Homo sapiens: one gene and its partner. The protein of the gene in region 1 purifies or fractionates together with the protein of each later gene. This does not show direct contact. Each region holds a gene or a part of one and is shown on either strand. Other genes may lie near its edges.

Region 1 (8,924 bases):
AGGCGGAAGTTGCAGTGAGCCAAGACTGTGCTACTGCACTCCAGCCTGGGTGACAGAGCAAGACTGTCTCAAAAAATAAATTAAAAAAATAAAATCTCTGTATTTCAAAGTTAAGCTAATTTGGTTTCTGCCTCTGAGAAAAAGGAAGATGCCTCAAGCATTGTCTTTGGTGGATATGTGGGAAACTTCATTAGAAATAATCTAGTCTTCACCATTGTGTTCCTAGGTCCTAGCCCTTGTGGCTGCCATAGAGTAGCAGCTCAATAAAATTTGTTCAATAAATGACCAGCTATTCAAAAGCTTTCCAGAAACGGGAACACAAACTTCTACAAGAAACAAAAGGCATGCTGGCATTAGATTGATCATCAGCTGCACTAAAAATGGTGGAATAATAGCTTGAAAGTTCAGGGGGAAAATGATTTTCAACTTGAGACGCCTCTACCCAGTCAAATTACTTGCGAGGGCAATATAAAGACATTGTTACACATGCAAAGACTCAGAAAGCTTACCTGCCAGACACCTTTTCTTAAGGAGGAGTTATTAGAGCAGGTACTCCATCAGTAAAAGAGCAGAGTATCCTGAGGAAGCCATGGGATTCAGGCAGCTGCAGATGTGACTCAGAATGTCAGTTTTGTGGGTGACTAAGCCACCAGTTCATATCTGAGCAAGAACGGGGGATCCAGGAAACAAAGGTATTTCATGGAATATACAGTTGGAAGAACTTGAAGATATACTTCAGGCAAAGAAAAGGAAAATAAGAAAAGTACCTAGAAATTATATTTCCTAAAAGACTCTACAAGAAAATCACAATACAAATATGAGTTAAACTGAGTCATCAGTGGGCTTTCAAAAAAATATTCCAAGAAAATAGAATGGGTAAGATGGCACAGATTTCTTTCAACAACAAAAAAGTACTAGGCAAAGCAACAACAACAAAGTAACCATGATTTTGAGAAACTGAACAGCACAGGGTTGAGACATTGTGATTACACAGGAAAATCAGGCCCAGCAAACTGCTTAGCTCTGCTGTGGACCAACATTTTCATAATGTTAATGCTGCTTATTGGTTATTGTCTATTAGAACCAACTTATAGAAGACTTAGGCCGGGCGTGGTGGCTTATGCCTCTAATCACAGCACTTTGGGAGGCTGAGGCAGGCAGAGGTCAAGACCATCCTGGCCAACATGTTGAAACTCCGTCTCTATTAAAAATACAAAAATTATCTGGGCGTGGTGGTGCACGCCTGCAGTCCCAGCTACGTGGGAGGCTGAGGCAGGAGAATCACTTGCACCCCGAAGGCAGAGGTTGCAGTGAGCTGAGATGGCGCCACTGCACTCCAGCCTGGCGACAGAGCGAGACTCCATCTCAAAAAAAAAAAAAAGAAGACTTAGTTACAGAAGGGAATATAAATGTTATCAGTTGTGGAAATCTAAGAGAGTACAGCTTTGAAAAGTTTGGAGGTACAGAGGTTTGAGGCTGCAATGAGCTATGATTGCACCAGAGGTACTCCAGCCTGGGCAACAGAGGGAGGCCTCATTTCTAAAAAATAAGAAATTTGGAGGTAGAAGCAGAGGTGGGGAGTTCAAGGGAAGTAAGAGTTCTTCCTATCATGAAATGGAGAACCAAGAGGCGCTGTCTGTATTTAATAGAACTAAAAACAACAGTTTAAGGATATTAAAGTTACTAAAGTGAACAATAGGACTAAATCATAGTGTTAACTACCATGTGCACCTTAGGGGGGTGAATTAAGCTGACTTTTTATCAGTCCTTGCAAGAGTCAATAGTGTCACAAAATAGCAGCTTAATCCTATTCATACAGTTGAAGATCATCAGGAGAATTTAAAACCACAAAGGTCAAAGTGGTTGCCCTTTGGAAGTGGGACTGAAGCTGGGGAGATAAAAAGCAAGGAACAATTGCTTTTTGTTCTAGGTCTTCCTCTACTCAACTTTTTTTTTCCCCTTTGACAAAACAAAAACCAAACATAACAATCCTGGTGAGGGTCAGAGATCATCTATTTTAATGCCTGGAAATATATTCGGTGAGTCATCTTGTGGCTCTTAAACCAAACCGAAGTTAAAAAGTATAAGAAAGTCTATATAACTGTAGACTACAAAGCAGTTAATACAGAGTGAAAACTCCCAGTCATCTCAGGAGAAGTGGCGTTTTATTATTTCTGGATATATCCAGAAGCTCTCCTGGCTGGGTATCCACAGCTTGGCAACAGCTGCATAAAAAGGGGGCCAGACCTTCTCTCACCATCCCCTCTCCCTACCCTCACCAGTCTATTCTTACTGACTTACAGGTTGAATTGCATCCCCCACAAAATATACGCTGGAGTCCTAATGTGCAGTACCTCAGAATGTGATCTTATTTGGAAATAGGGTTGTTAAGGATATAATTAGTTAAGATGAGGCCACACTGGGGTAGGATGGTCCCTCAATCTGATATGACTGGTGTCCTTATACAAGGGGAAATTTAGACTCAGAGACAGTACACATAAAGGAAAGGCAATGTGGGGGAGAAGAAGGCCATCTACAAGTCAAGTACAGAAGCCTGGAACAGATCTTTTCGTTCCAGCCCTCAGAAGAAACCAACACTGTCAACACCTTTATTTTGGACCTCTAGCCTCCAGAAGTATGAGATAATAAATTTGATTAAACCATTCATTTAGCTTGTGGGACTCTGTTACAGCAGCCCTGGCAAACTAATACACCGATGGAACAAGGGAAAGAATCCCTTTCATGACTGCCATCATTGGGTGGGAAAGAAAAGCATTAAGCACCTTTGTCATCTTCTCCCCTGATGCTGTCACAAATTTAATCTGATAGAAATCTGTCTTTTGCTCAGTTCTCAAGAGCAGCATTCTGAGTACAGGCATGGGCAGTATTTTTTTTTTTTTTTTTTTAGACAGAGTTTCGCTCTATCACCCAGGCTGGAGTGCAGTGGCACGATCTTGGTTCACTGCAACCTCCGCCTCCCAGGTTCAAATGATTCTTATGCCTCAGCCTCCCGAGTAGTTGGGGTTACAGGCGCCACCCACCATGCCCAGCTAATTTTTGTATTTTTAGTAGAGACAGGGTTTCACCATGTAGGCCAGGCTGGTCACGAACTCCTGACCTCAGGTGATCTGCCTACCTCGGCCTCCCAAAGTGCTGGGATTACAGGCCTGAGCCATCGTGCCTGGCCTTCTTTGTTTTTAATTGAAACTAGTCTTTGTATAGAGTACAAAGAAAGCAGTGCAGATGTTGTAAATGTTGATTTGTAGCATTTCCCTTCTCTTATCACCACACTACAGAATAGTTGTACATTAACTTTGACATTGTGGAAGGAAGGCAATTGGAGCTGGCCAGAGCAAAGCCATTTTGTTCCTGAATGCCATTTTACAACTGCCTGACTGCAGAATGTACTTGCTGATGTTGCAGACAAAATTGCTGCCATTATGAAAAGGACTTCATGCTGAGGACTGAACTTTTCTCAAACCCCTGAATCAAGGACTTTTGCCTAGAAACCAATGAACTGTCATGATAACGCTTTATCTTCAATCAAAATAGTGGGTTACGAAGGTTATGGATGAACTAGTGAGAACTGACTTCTTACTTCCTTTAAAAACCCTACCCAAAAATAGCTGGTCAGGACACAATTCAAATGCTTCTGGAATCTGTGTTCCTTGAACTGCAATTCTCAGACTGCCAATAAACTTCTTTACTTGGATTTCGGTCTCTCTGACTCTGGTTGACACGTTATAATGAACACGTTCAGCGCTTACAAGTAAAGGGTAACCAGATGTTGTTCACAGTAATCCTATGAGGTAGGTTCTATACTTTTATACAGAGGGATTTAGTTACTCTGCTGTATTAGTTTCCTAAGGCTTCTGTAACAAACTGTGACAACCTAAGTGGCTAAAACGACACGAATTTATTACCTTACAGTTCTGAAGTTCAGAAATACAGCTCACTGGGTTAAAATCAAGGCGTCAGTGTGCATGGTGGTTTTCCTGTAGTCCCAGCCACTCAGGAGGCTGAGGTGGGCGGATCGCTTGAGCCCGGGAGCTCAAAACCAGTCTTGGCAACATAGCAAGACCCTGTTTCAAAAAACAAAAAAATCAAGGGGTCAGCTGGACTGTTACTTCTGGAAGCTCTGGGGAACAATTTGGTTTTTGTTTTTTGTTTTTCCCTCCTTTTCTAGCTTCTCCTCCTTTTCCACCTCCCACCTCCTCCTTTATATATATATATATATATATATATATATTTTTTTTTTTTTTTGGAGACAGGTTCTTGCTCTGTCACCAAAGCTGGACTGCAGTGGTGGGATCATGAGCCCTCTCCAGCTCTAGTGATCCTCCTGCCCCAATCCCCCGAGCAGCTGGGACCACAGTGCCCGTCGCTATGTCTAGTTAATTTTTCGTAGAGACGAGTGTCTCACTATGTTGCCCAGGCTGATCTCGAACTCCTGGGCTAAAGTGTTCCTCTCCTGCCTCTGCCTTCCAAAGCACTGGGATTGCAAACATGAGACACTGTGCCTGCTCCTCTTCCAGCTTCTTGAGGCCAGCTGCATTCCTTGGCTGTTGCCCCTTCCTCCACCTTCAAATAGCTTTCTCATACTGACCTTCTTTTTGGGCCCCTTCCACTTTAGAGAACCCTTGTAATTACTTTGTAATTACCCAAGCACACACTCCAAGATCGTCACCTTATTTTAAAGTCCGCTGATAAGCAACCTTAATTCCATCTGCAATCTTAACCCCCTCTGCCAAGCAAGAGAACAAACGCACAGGTTCCAGGGAGTAGGATGTGGACATCCTGAGGCGGAAGCATTATCCCGCCTTCCACAATTGCCCAAGGTCACATAGCTAGTAAGTTCTAGCTAGCACTGAGTGCTGTGCCCGTGAAATTTATCTACATAGGCTTTCACTTAACCTGCAGACAGAACTCAGTTAGTCGGGGACAATTTCCCTCAATGTTAACAGCACTGTTCCACCGCAACGTGGAACAACAGCTTTAAAACGTGCTCTTCGTAGGCCCGGCTACTCCAAGAACAGTGCCTCCCGCCAGACCCAGGCGGCTTCCTTCACCCGCAACCCGAGAGACGACCCGCCGGGCCCGCCCCGCGGAAGCCGCCGGTTGCCAGGCCAAGGAGTGGACTAGGGTCGCCGGGGAAGCGGGTGAGTGGTCCCCGCCCTGGCGGGCTGCCTCTAGAACGAGGAGGGCGGCGCGTGGTCGCGGCGCGGAGCCGAGTGGGAGCGAGGGGTAGACGCGCCCCGGACGCGCGGCCGCGCCCCTCACTTCCGCCCCGCGGTCTGGACCACTCGCCGCAAACCCGCAAGTCCCTCGCCGCCTTGGGGTCTGGGCGCGCGGTGCCGTGGGGGTCAGCAGGGCGGAGCGGCTTTTCCAGGAGAAAGGGCCCTCACGGGTGAGCGGGGCGACTGGGCTCCCCCGCGGTGCAGTTGCCCCGCGGGCGCCGGCCCCGGCTCAACGGATTCTTCTCGCTCGCTGCCCGGAAAGAACCAGTGAGAACCGCTGTTGCAGCAAAAAAAGAAGTTAATAAGCGCAGGGCTGGCCAAACCAGAACAGGGTCTCAGACCTGTCTCCCCGAGAATTCGGGGGCGAGGGTTTTAAAGGGCATTTTGGCTTCGGGGGGCTGGGGAACTGAAACAGTTGACCGGCTGGGGATGAAATCACAAGAGCTTCTGAAACTCGGGGCGGCTTCGTTGGTTCCCAGGAAGGGGTGGGGTCAGTTTCCCTTGTCTTGAAGTTTACACGAAATCCCTCTCCCAGTTATCCTAGCCTCTGTGCTAGAATAAGAAAACGACAACACGGTGAAAACTTAGCCCGTGAGGTTAGAAGCAAGATGGAGTCAGTCATGTTAGATTTCTCGCATTACTTATACATCTGTAAAGGTGGTTTCAGGGACCTTTCTGAACTTAGCCCGTATCTCACTGGTGATCCCACTTCTGGGTATTTGCAAATCACTTTATTAGGTTTTTAAAAGTATTGTTGCAGGCATGCGAAGGGGCCGATATACTTTTGCCATGTCCAGAGTGTATTCAGGTCTTGTAATGATCATATGGGTGTAATATTGAGTAACAGGCAAATGTGGGCAGAAAATATCAAATGTGGTTTTCAGCTAAGAAGTCTGGTTGCTCTTAATTTTCAGTTACTCTCCATTGCATAGAATAAAGCCCCGAAGAAACGAAGAATAAGATCATGGGGAAACTTGGCTTCCATGTTAAACCGTGTAATACCAGGTGTTAGAATAGTAGTAAAGGACTTGTTTCTTTCACATCTATATACACTCAAAAGACCTCATCGATCTTGGAAAAACATTGTTTCGAAGACAATGTGTATGACTGATTTGGTTATATGAAGAAATTATTTCTAGGATTTCCTGGTAATTCTGTGATAAACAGTAATACAAACTGGAATTTTTACAGGTCACTATAGTAGAGGTTTTAGTTTGATTTTTGCTTTGCCTGTCATGCTCTCTCTGCCTTATAATTCTTTGTGGTGTAATTAAAAAACGAACACTAGGGCCGGACGGGGTGGCTCACGCCTGTAATCCCAGCACTTTGGGAGGCCGAGGCGGGCGGATCATCTGAGGTCGGGAGTTCGAGCCCAGCCTGACCAACATGGAGAAACCGCGTCTCTACTAAAAATACAAAATTAGCCGGGCGTGGTGGCGCATGCCTGTAATCCCAGCTACTCGGGAGGCTGAGGCAGGAGAATCACTTGAACCTGGGAGGTGGAGGTTGCGGTGAGCCGAGATCGCACCATTGCACTCCAGCCTGGGCAACAGGAGCGAGACTCCGTCTCAAAATAAAAAACAAACACTGTAAGCTTTTTGAAAAATCAAGTAAATTCATTACAGTGTTTTTCCTGCAATGAAAAAGAATGCATCACTTCCCTAAGGTTTTAATAATCATAATAGCTGCCAGTTATTCAGGACCTTGTATGTACCAGGCAAAGTGTTAGGAACGTTTTATCCATTTTCTCTTATGTGCTAAGCAGTCCCGCTAGCTGCTTCATCCTGGAAATATAGATGGGAGACTGAAGTCAAGGACTCCAACTGTGTGTTTAACATCTCTCTTGACTCCCAGGAACCTCCAGTTTGGCATGTCCAAAATGAAACACATGTCTGTCTTCTATCAATATGTTTTGCCCAACCCCTGCAACACTCCCACTTCCAGAAAAATCACACAAACAAAAAACCACACACACAACCATTGTGCCTTTCCTCTCTCAGGGAGTGCCAAGAAACCATCTGGTTCATGCCAGAAACTTGGGAGTCAACCTTGCCCCCTTCTCTGCTTGCCCCCCATAAATCTGCCACCACAAATCCTGTCAACTGTTCTTACATCTTTCCTTCCCATTTTTTCTGACCCCATTGCCTCCACTCTATTCCATTTCATTATTTTCCTGCCTTTTCTATTGTTGGAGCCTCCTAACTGGCCTGTGTCTCTGAGCTGGCCTTCCTGCCCCTCCTCCACTGGTCCATTTAATCTGCAATCTGAGTGAATGTTTTTTCTAATATGCAAATATGATTATATTGCCTTCTTGGTTAAAATGCTTCAGCAGCTTGTTACATTCTTCTTTCAATTTCTTGAACTGAATGTAATTTCTTTAGCTCTTAAATATGCAATTTCCTCTTCCTTGATTACTCTTTTCCTCCTCTTTGTCTAGCCAAGTTTCATTCATCCTTCAGGCTTCAGCTTAAATAGCCTACATTTGTTGAGGTTTATGGTTATCTCTGCATGGGATGTCCACGTTGGCAGGGACTATGAGAGATTTTTCAGATTATAACATCTGACTCAGAGTTGGTGCTCAGTGTCTGCCTGTTGTATGTAGTATAGGGGAGGAAAAACATTTTTTCTCTGCCCTCTTAGGTTCAGTAGCTGGGCCCTGCAAAATAAACTGATGAAAGATAGATTAACAGGAAAAAAGGTTTATGCATAAATGTAAAGAAGTGGTTAGACCAGGGGGCTCATATGCCATTTTAACAAAGAGTGATAAATTATAGAGAAGTAACTAGACAAAAGTAGGGGAATGCTTCTTGGGTAAATTGTAGGAAGGTAAATATATGGCGGAAGCTAACATAAGATAAGGGTTATTCAGTAAAGTTTGTTATGTGGACTCAAGTTGGTGCCTTCCCCATTGGTAAGAGTTGCTCTCCTCTTCCTGGTACTGGAAAGGAAGACACATTTACAAATGGATATTTATTACCTGTACATAGGAAAATTTATGCCCTGCATTTATACAAAAAAGGGAGGGCAAAGAGCAAATTGGTTTCAGCTCAAAACAATTCTTACATGAAAGTGGCATATTTTGGGGTAGCATACACTGATCCTCTTCAAAAGGAATAATTTGCTTTTCTCTTATCATGGTTATGAGAGCTACTTTGAATTAATTTTTGCTTTTTGAAAGTACATTTAATTCTCAAATGTTTCTGCTTTTGAATGCAGTTTGGGAGAGCCCATGGTGACTGCGTGAGTGGAGCCCAGCTGTGTGGATGCCCCAGCATGGATGACTACATGGTCCTGAGAATGATTGGGGAGGGCTCCTTCGGCAGAGCTCTTTTGGTTCAGCATGAAAGCAGTAATCAGATGTTTGCCATGAAAGAAATAAGGCTTCCCAAGGTCACTACTAAAGAAATTAGCTCACTTTGAAAGTATACATGCAGTTTATATAAAAGAATAAGTTTTTGGCCAGGCACAGTGGCTCACACCTGTAATCCCAGCACTTTGGGAGGTGGAGGCGGGTAGATCACCTGAGGTCAGGAGTTTGAGACCGGCCTGAGGTCAGGAGTTTGAGGCCAGCCTGGCCAACATGGGGAAAACCCGTCTCTAGTAAAAATAATAAAAAAAAAATTAGGCAAGTGTGGTGGCCTGCACCTGTAGTCCCAGCTATTCAGGAGGCAGAGGCAGGAGAATCAC
Region 2 (7,762 bases), on another chromosome or scaffold:
TCCCTTCGACAGCTGGCCTTTCCCCAGAGCTAGGCACTGGGGAGCCACTGGGGGACAAAGTAGTCAAGGTCTCTGTACAGCGGGAGCTCAGAGCCTGGGGAGAGCAACAGGCAGGAACTGGATAACCGTATCCCTCTGTGTCTCCTCTAGTTGCAAGCTGGTGCCTGTGCTTTGAATCAGTTAGCTGGGGGGTAGGGGTAGGGGTGGGGTGGGAATGCTGCAGGCTGCATGAACAGCAAGTGCAAAGGCCCTGAGGCAGGAGGCTCAGTGTATTGGAAGGACTCAAGGGAGGCCATGGGCAGTGGCACAGCAGCAGGAGGAATGTGGGGCCGCACGGACCTACTGAGTTCTCAGGACCCCAGCCCTCCTGAGGCTGCCGTGCTTTATCATAAAGGCAAGGCCAAGCCATCAGTGTGTGCGAGCAGGAGGTAATGAGATCAGGCGTATTGGGCATCTGCTGCTGCTGCTGATTTCATGTGCACGGTGGTGTCCGTGGGAATCAACTCTGAAGAGCCCAGGGCCACGTGACCTCTGGCTCCTTGTGGCTCCAGGGTCTGGTGAGGATCAGAGGTGCGTGGCCCACATGAGGTCGTTGAAACCTAGTACTTTGTATCTTGCATTTGGGATGCTGATCCTCAGCCCCTCTGGCCACGCCGCACCATGTTCCCCAGCTTTGGCTGGATGTGGGGCCCAGGTTGTACTCCCAGAGCTTGGCCTGCCAGTAGACACTGAGGATTTTTATTTTTTATTTTTGGTATGAAAATCAAGTATTCGGCCTGGGCTGTTGGTTGCTGTCCAACAAGCCAGGATGAAGGAGGAGCTCTTGGGGTGGTGCCCCGTGCCTCCTTTGCAGGTGCCTGTGCTGTGTCCCTGCCCCTCTGCCCTCCCTCTGTGGGCTCCAGTCAGTCCCTGGTCAGGCTGCTTAGAGGGGAGTGATGTGGGCTCCTCCAGAAGGGCCCAACTTCTAAATCTTTCTCACTCCAAAGTCTGCGGTTTTGCCAGCTCAGTGTCCCGCCCCCACCACCATCTGATTATACTGGGGCATATTTCGTGCAAGGCCTAGAACAGGCACCCAGGAAATACTGATATTATGAATGAATGCCCCTGACTCCAGGGGCAGCAGTCCTGAGGCCCAGTGAGGTGGGGCCCAGCCAGACACTTTCCCTGGGAGGAGTGAGGGCCAGGGGACAGACAGAGCCCTCCAGGTAGGCCAGGGGGAGCGAGCAGTGCCTCCACGGAGAGGACACCAGGCTCGGGCACGGAATGCCAGGGAGAAGGTGCTTTGCCCTCTTTCTGGGTCAGGTGGAAACCTTGAACAGACACGTCTGTGGCTGGAATTCCTCAGGTTTCTGTCCCGACAGTGTCCAGAGGACAGAAGGCTCTCATCGAGACGGGACTAAAGTGGGGCCCAGCTCCCTGGGATCCCCATGGCGAACTCCCAGCGCCCTGGCCCAGGTTTGGGCCCACAGGGAACCCTCGCCCTTGCTGGCGCTGCTGCCTGTGCTGGCTCTGCCCCGACCGGCCCAGGAGGCAGGGTGTCATCAGTGAGATTCAGCCTGCGACTTGTCCCCTGGGTATTCCTGGTGGCCCCTTGGAGCCCAGGTTTCTGGCAAGCAGCTTCCCTGGGCCCAGTTTCCCAACCTCCTTGTGGTCTGAAGCCCGCAGCAGAGACACCCAGGCAGGGTGGAGTCGGAGCTGGGGTGCAGGAGGGGCCTCTGTGGAGCGCCGTGGCTCCAACACCCTTTTCCTTGGCGTCACCCACGCTGGCCTTCCGGGTGCCTCGGGGCGTCAGCACCTTGGGGTTTTCCCCTGGCCTGTGTGGGGAGAACTGTCTTTTTTCTCCCTTCTTTCCAGGAGGAGCTCATGCAGGGATGGGTTCTGAGGCCCGGGCCGCCTCTTGGTTCCCTGCCTGTGCTTTGCTCCCTGCGGAGTCCTCCGAGGCTCCTGTCTGCCATCTCCACGGACCAGGCCAGGGCCTTGGGCTGTCTGCACAGGCTCCTCCTCTGTGTGGTCAGCCCTCACCCCCACCCCAGCTGCTCAGTCTGTTGCCTCCTGCCCCCTCCTCATGAAGCCCACCCTCTGGTGCCCGCCCAGGCCCCCATGCCCACTCTCTCATGGTGACTAGCCCCGAGCCTGCCCAATGTCACGGAGCCCTCGCCTGCTACTAAGCAGCACGTAGGCGCGCTCTGAGGGAGTCCTCAGCATCAGGTGTGAGCAGACACCACGGGCATCCCCACTTTCCAGACGAGGAGCCAGGCCCTCAGAGGACAAGTGACCTAGTAGCCAAGGCCACGCAATAGCAGATCACAGACCTCAGACCAGAACCTGATCCGTGATTGTGAATCTGAGCCGAAGCCCTGTGCAGGCTTACCTGGGGGCAGCTTGTCTAGAGGTGACTTCGGTTGTTCTTAAAGTGTGTTCTCCAAAGCAGGGTTTGTATGTACACACAAGCAGCAGCTGAGAGGTGTGTAGGCAGTGCATGGGTCAATTTTTTTTATTTCAATAATTGTTTTTCTTTTTGTATCATAGAAAGAGTATCATGAGTATATCAAACTTGTAATTTCATGGACATTGCTTAAGCCCAAGCTAATAAAAATAGCAAGTCAATTTTAAAAATTGCGTATAACTAGTCAATATTACCAGGTGATATGCAGAAACAGGAAGAAAATCGTGAAGTCTAAAGGTAGGAAAGACAGGCATGATGAAAGTTGAGAAACAGTGATTTCCGTCTCAGGCCCATGCCCTGCCCTGTCTGCTGGTCCTGCAGCTCATGGTGGACACCAAAGGGGGAGCTGAAGGAGGCAGATCCTTCCACTGGGCTTCAGGTTCCAAAGCGGGTAGCCGAGCAGGGTCACCCCTCCTTCACAAGGCCCCATCGGGCCGCCCTGATGGCCTCTCCCTCTCCTTCCCTGTGTAGAAGAGATCGTCGCGCATGCCAGCAACGTGTCCTCACTGGTGCTGGGCAAAGCCTCCGGGCGGCTGCTGGCTACAGGCGGGGATGACTGCCGCGTCAACCTGTGGTCCATCAACAAGCCCAACTGCATCATGGTGAGCCCCGACAGCTGGCGGGGGGTCAGGACAAGGGCCTGGGGAGGGGACGGGGACAGGGGTTGGAGGCTGAAGAGTGAGCAGCTTCTCAGACTCTCTTGAGCCCAGGGCCCCCTATCCGCTGGGGCCCAGCTCAGGGGTGGAGGGGGCGTGGTGGGGACACCATCAGTGCTTCCCCCAGCTGTCTGCTCAGTGAGGCCCAGGACAGCCCAGCATGGCTGGGACAGTGGCCAGCCCTCAGGAGCGAGGGAGTCACCTGCCTGTGGTACTATTAAGAACTCCAGGCAGGCTGCGTGAGAAGATTAAAATAAGCCCTGGGCCTGTGGTTGAGCCAAAAGACTTGTACCCCTCCCCTCCCACCTGCCCATCTGCCTGCCTGGCAGCAACATGTGGGCGTTTATTTTAATTCATTCCCAGCCTTCATTCCCCAATGAGGATTTGAGGGGACCTGGCTGGAGCTGGTTAGGGAGCTAGTTCTTAAATAGCATCTCCCCACTATTTATGCAGCTATATGTTCAATGCTGGAAACTGTTTTCCAAATAGGAGTGCATAAAGGAGAAAACACAAAATTAACTACATATAGTTCCGTTATCCAAAGGCCACCACAGTTGGTGTTTTGGTGTGAGTCCTTCTAGATGCTGAGACAGATACATATACGTGTACATGCACGTAAGTGCACACTTGTACATGCATGTACACATGTATACACACAAATACTCATACAAGCACACACACATAAATAAAAATACACTGCCACTCTTGTGCAGCCTGGTTTTTAAAAATAACAATGTTGTAAGGATTTGCCTGTGTCAACAAGTATTCTTTTACAACATAATTTTGAATGGCTTAATGGTGTTCCATTGTAGGGATGAGCCGTAATTAGCTTAGCCACACCCTGTTATCAGCAGAGAGGTTGTTTCCGGCTTTTTTTGGCTCTGCTAAAGCACCCTGTGGTGAACATCCTCAGCCACCTAGATCCTTGAGCAGATCCGTGATCACTGCATTCAATCCAAGGGTGTGTGCTTTTGTTAAAGCTTTCAAAACAGATTGCCAAATTGCCCCCCAGAAATCATTTTACATTCTCACCAGCAGCATCGGAACCTGCCCTTTCCTCCCTGCCCCAACCCCCATCCCTTGCCAACCAGGGAGTATCATTGTTGTGACTCTTGGTGAAATAAAGATGAAGAGGAATAGGCCGGGCACAGTGGCTCACGCCTGTAATCCCAGCACTTTGGGAAGCTGAGGCGGGTGGATCACCTGAAGTCAGGAGTTTGAGACCGCCCTGGCCAACATGGTGAAATCCTGTCTCTACTAAAAACACAAAAATTAGCCGGGCGTGGTGGCAGGCACCTGTAGTCCCAGCTACTCAGGAGGCTGAGGCAGGAGAATCGCTTGAACCTGGGAGACGGAGGTTGCAGTAAGCCGAGATGGTGCCACTGCACTCCAGGCTGGGTGATAGAGCAAGATTCCATCTCAAAAGAAAAAGAAAAAGAATATGGCAAAGGATGAATTTCTTAGTAGAAACTTAATCACCTCAGTGTTTTTCTGAGATCCAGGGGGAGAACTGAGATCCACCCCAGCCTCAGCAAGGGTGCCAGGGGTCAGTAATGATGAATTGAATTGTTTTGTTTTACTTTGTTTCTAGGATTCAAATGTGTTTTCTACCCCCATGAAATGCCAAAGTAGTAGCATACACAAGTTGAAAAAGCATCACCAATGACTGACCAAAAATAGGACATGCCACGACCCCCAGAGAAACGGGGCCAACCGTCTGGGGCCTGGCCTGCAGGCTTGTTTTAGAACGCCAGGTGCAGCTGTCAGGCCCCAGCCGGCCTCACCCCGGGCCCCTGCCCTGGCTCACACACACCAGCCTCCCAGGCCTCGCAGTGCCTCCAGCCTGCCGGGGTCTCTCTCCCCTTGGGGTTTCTGTGCACGCTGTCCCCCTGCAGGCCGTCCACTTGGATTTATTTTTATTTTTGAGTATGGGATACACTTATTCTGTTCAACATCCAAAAGATAGAGGATCCACAGTGAAAAGTCTTCCACCCTCCTCCAACCGCCACAGCCCTCTCCTTTCCACGGGGATGGGCAGTCAGGGAGAGCCAGGGGTTCTAGAGGGGCGAGATGTGTGCCCAGGACTAGGCAGGCCTTGGTTCCGCTGTGGCTTACCTCGCTGAGGGGCTTGCCTGGGGCAGAGTGAAGATGGGAACAGAGCGGGGGCAGGGTTGCTTAACTTAGGGCTGAAGGGACAGCATCCCTTTATCTTGTCCAGTCGCTCCCCTCCAAGGGGCCCAGGGCCATTTCTGCAGGTGACGCCCATGTCAGAAGCACAGCAGGGAAGAGGGAGGTGGTGGGGGGATGATTGGGGTTTGGCCACTCTTAGCCCTGGGAGCTGAGGCCGAGAGGAGTAGGTGCTCAGAAAGGGCCTGCAGGAGGGCTAGGCTGTGGCCCCCATGGGGCTCCCCCTCCTGCCTTAGCCATTTCTTGCTGAAGCCTTTCCGGGGGACTTGGAATTCAGGGCGCAACTGCAGGGGTCTGTCCAGCAGTGCACGGAAGCTGCTGCTCTCTCTCCACAGAGCCTGACGGGCCACACATCCCCAGTGGAGAGCGTCCGCCTCAACACCCCCGAGGAGCTCATCGTGGCCGGCTCTCAGTCGGGCTCCATCCGTGTCTGGGACCTGGAAGCTGCCAAAAGTAGGCCTCCGAGCTTGCCTCCTGTGCACGCACACCTGCCTTAGTCTTCAGGCTCTGCAGTTGTACTGCTTCCTCCAGGAAGCCTGCCTGGACTACGTTGGCTGCTTTGCTCCTGGAGCACTAACCCGGCAGTGTGGCACCCACTCCACCCCCATTAGCCTGGCATTGACATGCACTGCTGCCTCGTGTGGGTGGGGGGATGTGCGGGTGTGTGTGTGTGTGTGTTTGGATGTATGTGTGTTTGGATGTGTGTGTCTGCGGGCACGTGTGTGTGTGTGTGTGTGTGTGTGTTTAGAACCTAGAGGGATGTCACATGCCGCCAGGGGCCCTGCAGGTCACATGAATGAGTGAGGTGGCTGCGTGGGACAGCCATGAAGAACCGGGGAGCTTGTACCCTGACTCCAGGTGGTCCCCACTCTGCCTTGGCTCCCTGGTGCCATTAGAGGCAGCCTGGAATGGCCAGATCTGTTTCCTTGTGCTCTGTTTTAATTTAGTTTTCATCTGTATAGAAGTTGTACATAGCCTAAAATTTAAAACCTCAAATACCAGTATTTCTACAATTAATTTCAATGGAAAGAGGAAACTTCTGCCCCACTCCTTCCCATTCTCCATGAGCCTAAACTTTCTGTGCTTTCGTCTGTGCTTTGCTGATCGCCTCCACCTTTCTAGACCACATGGTCATACCACAGTTTCTTTCTTTTCTTATTTAAAAAACACCGTGGCCAGGCGCAGTGGCTCACGCCTATAATCCCAGCACTTTGGGAGGCCAAGGCAGGCGGATCACCTGAGGTTGGGAGTTCGAGACCAGCCTGACCAACGTGGAGAAACCCCATCCTGAGGTTGGGAGTTCGAGACCAGCCTGACCAACGTGGAGAAACCCCATCTCTACTAAAAATACAAAATTAGCCGGGTGTGGTGGCACATGTCTGTAATCCCAGCTACTTGGGAGGCTGAGGCAGGAGAATCACCTGAACCCGGGAGGTGGGGGTTGTGGTGAGCCAAGATCGCACCATTGCACTATAGCCTGGGCAACAAGAGCGAAACTCCATCTCAAAAAAAAAAAAAAAAGTTAACACATTAGTTATTCTCTTCCTACTGTAAAGGATGAGAATTTAGCTCTCTCATGGCACCACTCCCAGCCCCATGGCTCGTGTTTCTCCTCCCACCCTCCCAGTAGCACCATTTCAATAGGTGGTGTTTATAATGTAAGGACGCATAAGTGTCATTTACCACTGACTATTTCTTTTTAATAACTTGGTTTCCCTGGAGTTAATAATAGTTCCTTTTTTTTTTTAATCTGTGTGTTTTCTATGTCCATATTACTCATTCATCCCCAAATTCTCTGCCAGAAGAGTAAAGCTCCTCCTGTTTCTTTGAAACCCATCCCATAATCCAGGCGCCTTTTCTCAGAGCCTCTCCTCTGGTCCTAGTGACCTGCAGCCCAGCTGTCATCCTGGGCCTCTGTGTCTCTTCTCTGGGGAATTCTCTCCATCTGTTGTTCCTGGTCCCACGCCGCAACCTTTCTTGGTTTTCTCCCTCTTTTTGATGGAGCACATTCTTTTGTAGCTTTCTGAGAAAATGTGCTGGGAAGGCATAGTTTTGGAGAACTTCCATGGCTGAAAATGACTTTCTGCTACCCCCATCATTTGCTTTTGTGTTTGTTTTATGAGTTTGAGTATAGAGTTCTATGTTGGCAATAAAATATCGCCCTCAGAATTTGGAAGGTGCAGCTTTTCTGCCTTTTAGGTTCTAGGTTGCTATTGGGAGGGGCCGGTGTTGTTCTGATCCCAGATCCTTCACAGGGGACTGGCTTCATTCCATGTTCTGTCTCTTCCTTCCTCTCTCTCTCTCTTTTCTTTCCTCTCTCTCTCTGTCTCTGCAGGCTTTTAGGGTCTTTGTCCCAGTGTTCTGGTGTGGTGAGCCTTGGGGTGGGTCTGCTTCCACCCTGTGCTAGGTCGTCACTGGTTTCATGCGGTTGTGGTCTGGAAACTCATGCCCTCAGTTCTGGGCTGAGCGGAGA

What was found. The genes of interacting proteins can lie anywhere in the genome.
Region 2: the proteins of NEK3 (region 1) and KATNB1 purify together in Homo sapiens (affinity purification with mass spectrometry; 2 studies listed by BioGRID and IntAct, with this or other methods). This does not show direct contact.

What each region holds. Positions count from the first base shown.
Region 1 is NC_000013.11:52,155,778-52,164,701, reverse strand, and holds the start of NEK3 (serine/threonine-protein kinase Nek3), read left to right. Parts: upstream 1-5,104; 5' UTR 5,105-5,159; intron 5,160-5,246; exon of another isoform or gene 5,247-5,504; intron 5,505-7,355; exon of another isoform or gene 7,356-8,453; 5' UTR 8,454-8,510; coding exon 8,511-8,627; exon of another isoform or gene 8,628-8,924.
Region 2 is NC_000016.10:57,738,770-57,746,531, forward strand, and holds part of KATNB1 (katanin p80 WD40 repeat-containing subunit B1), read left to right. Parts: intron 1-2,917; coding exon 2,918-3,048; intron 3,049-5,624; coding exon 5,625-5,742; intron 5,743-7,762.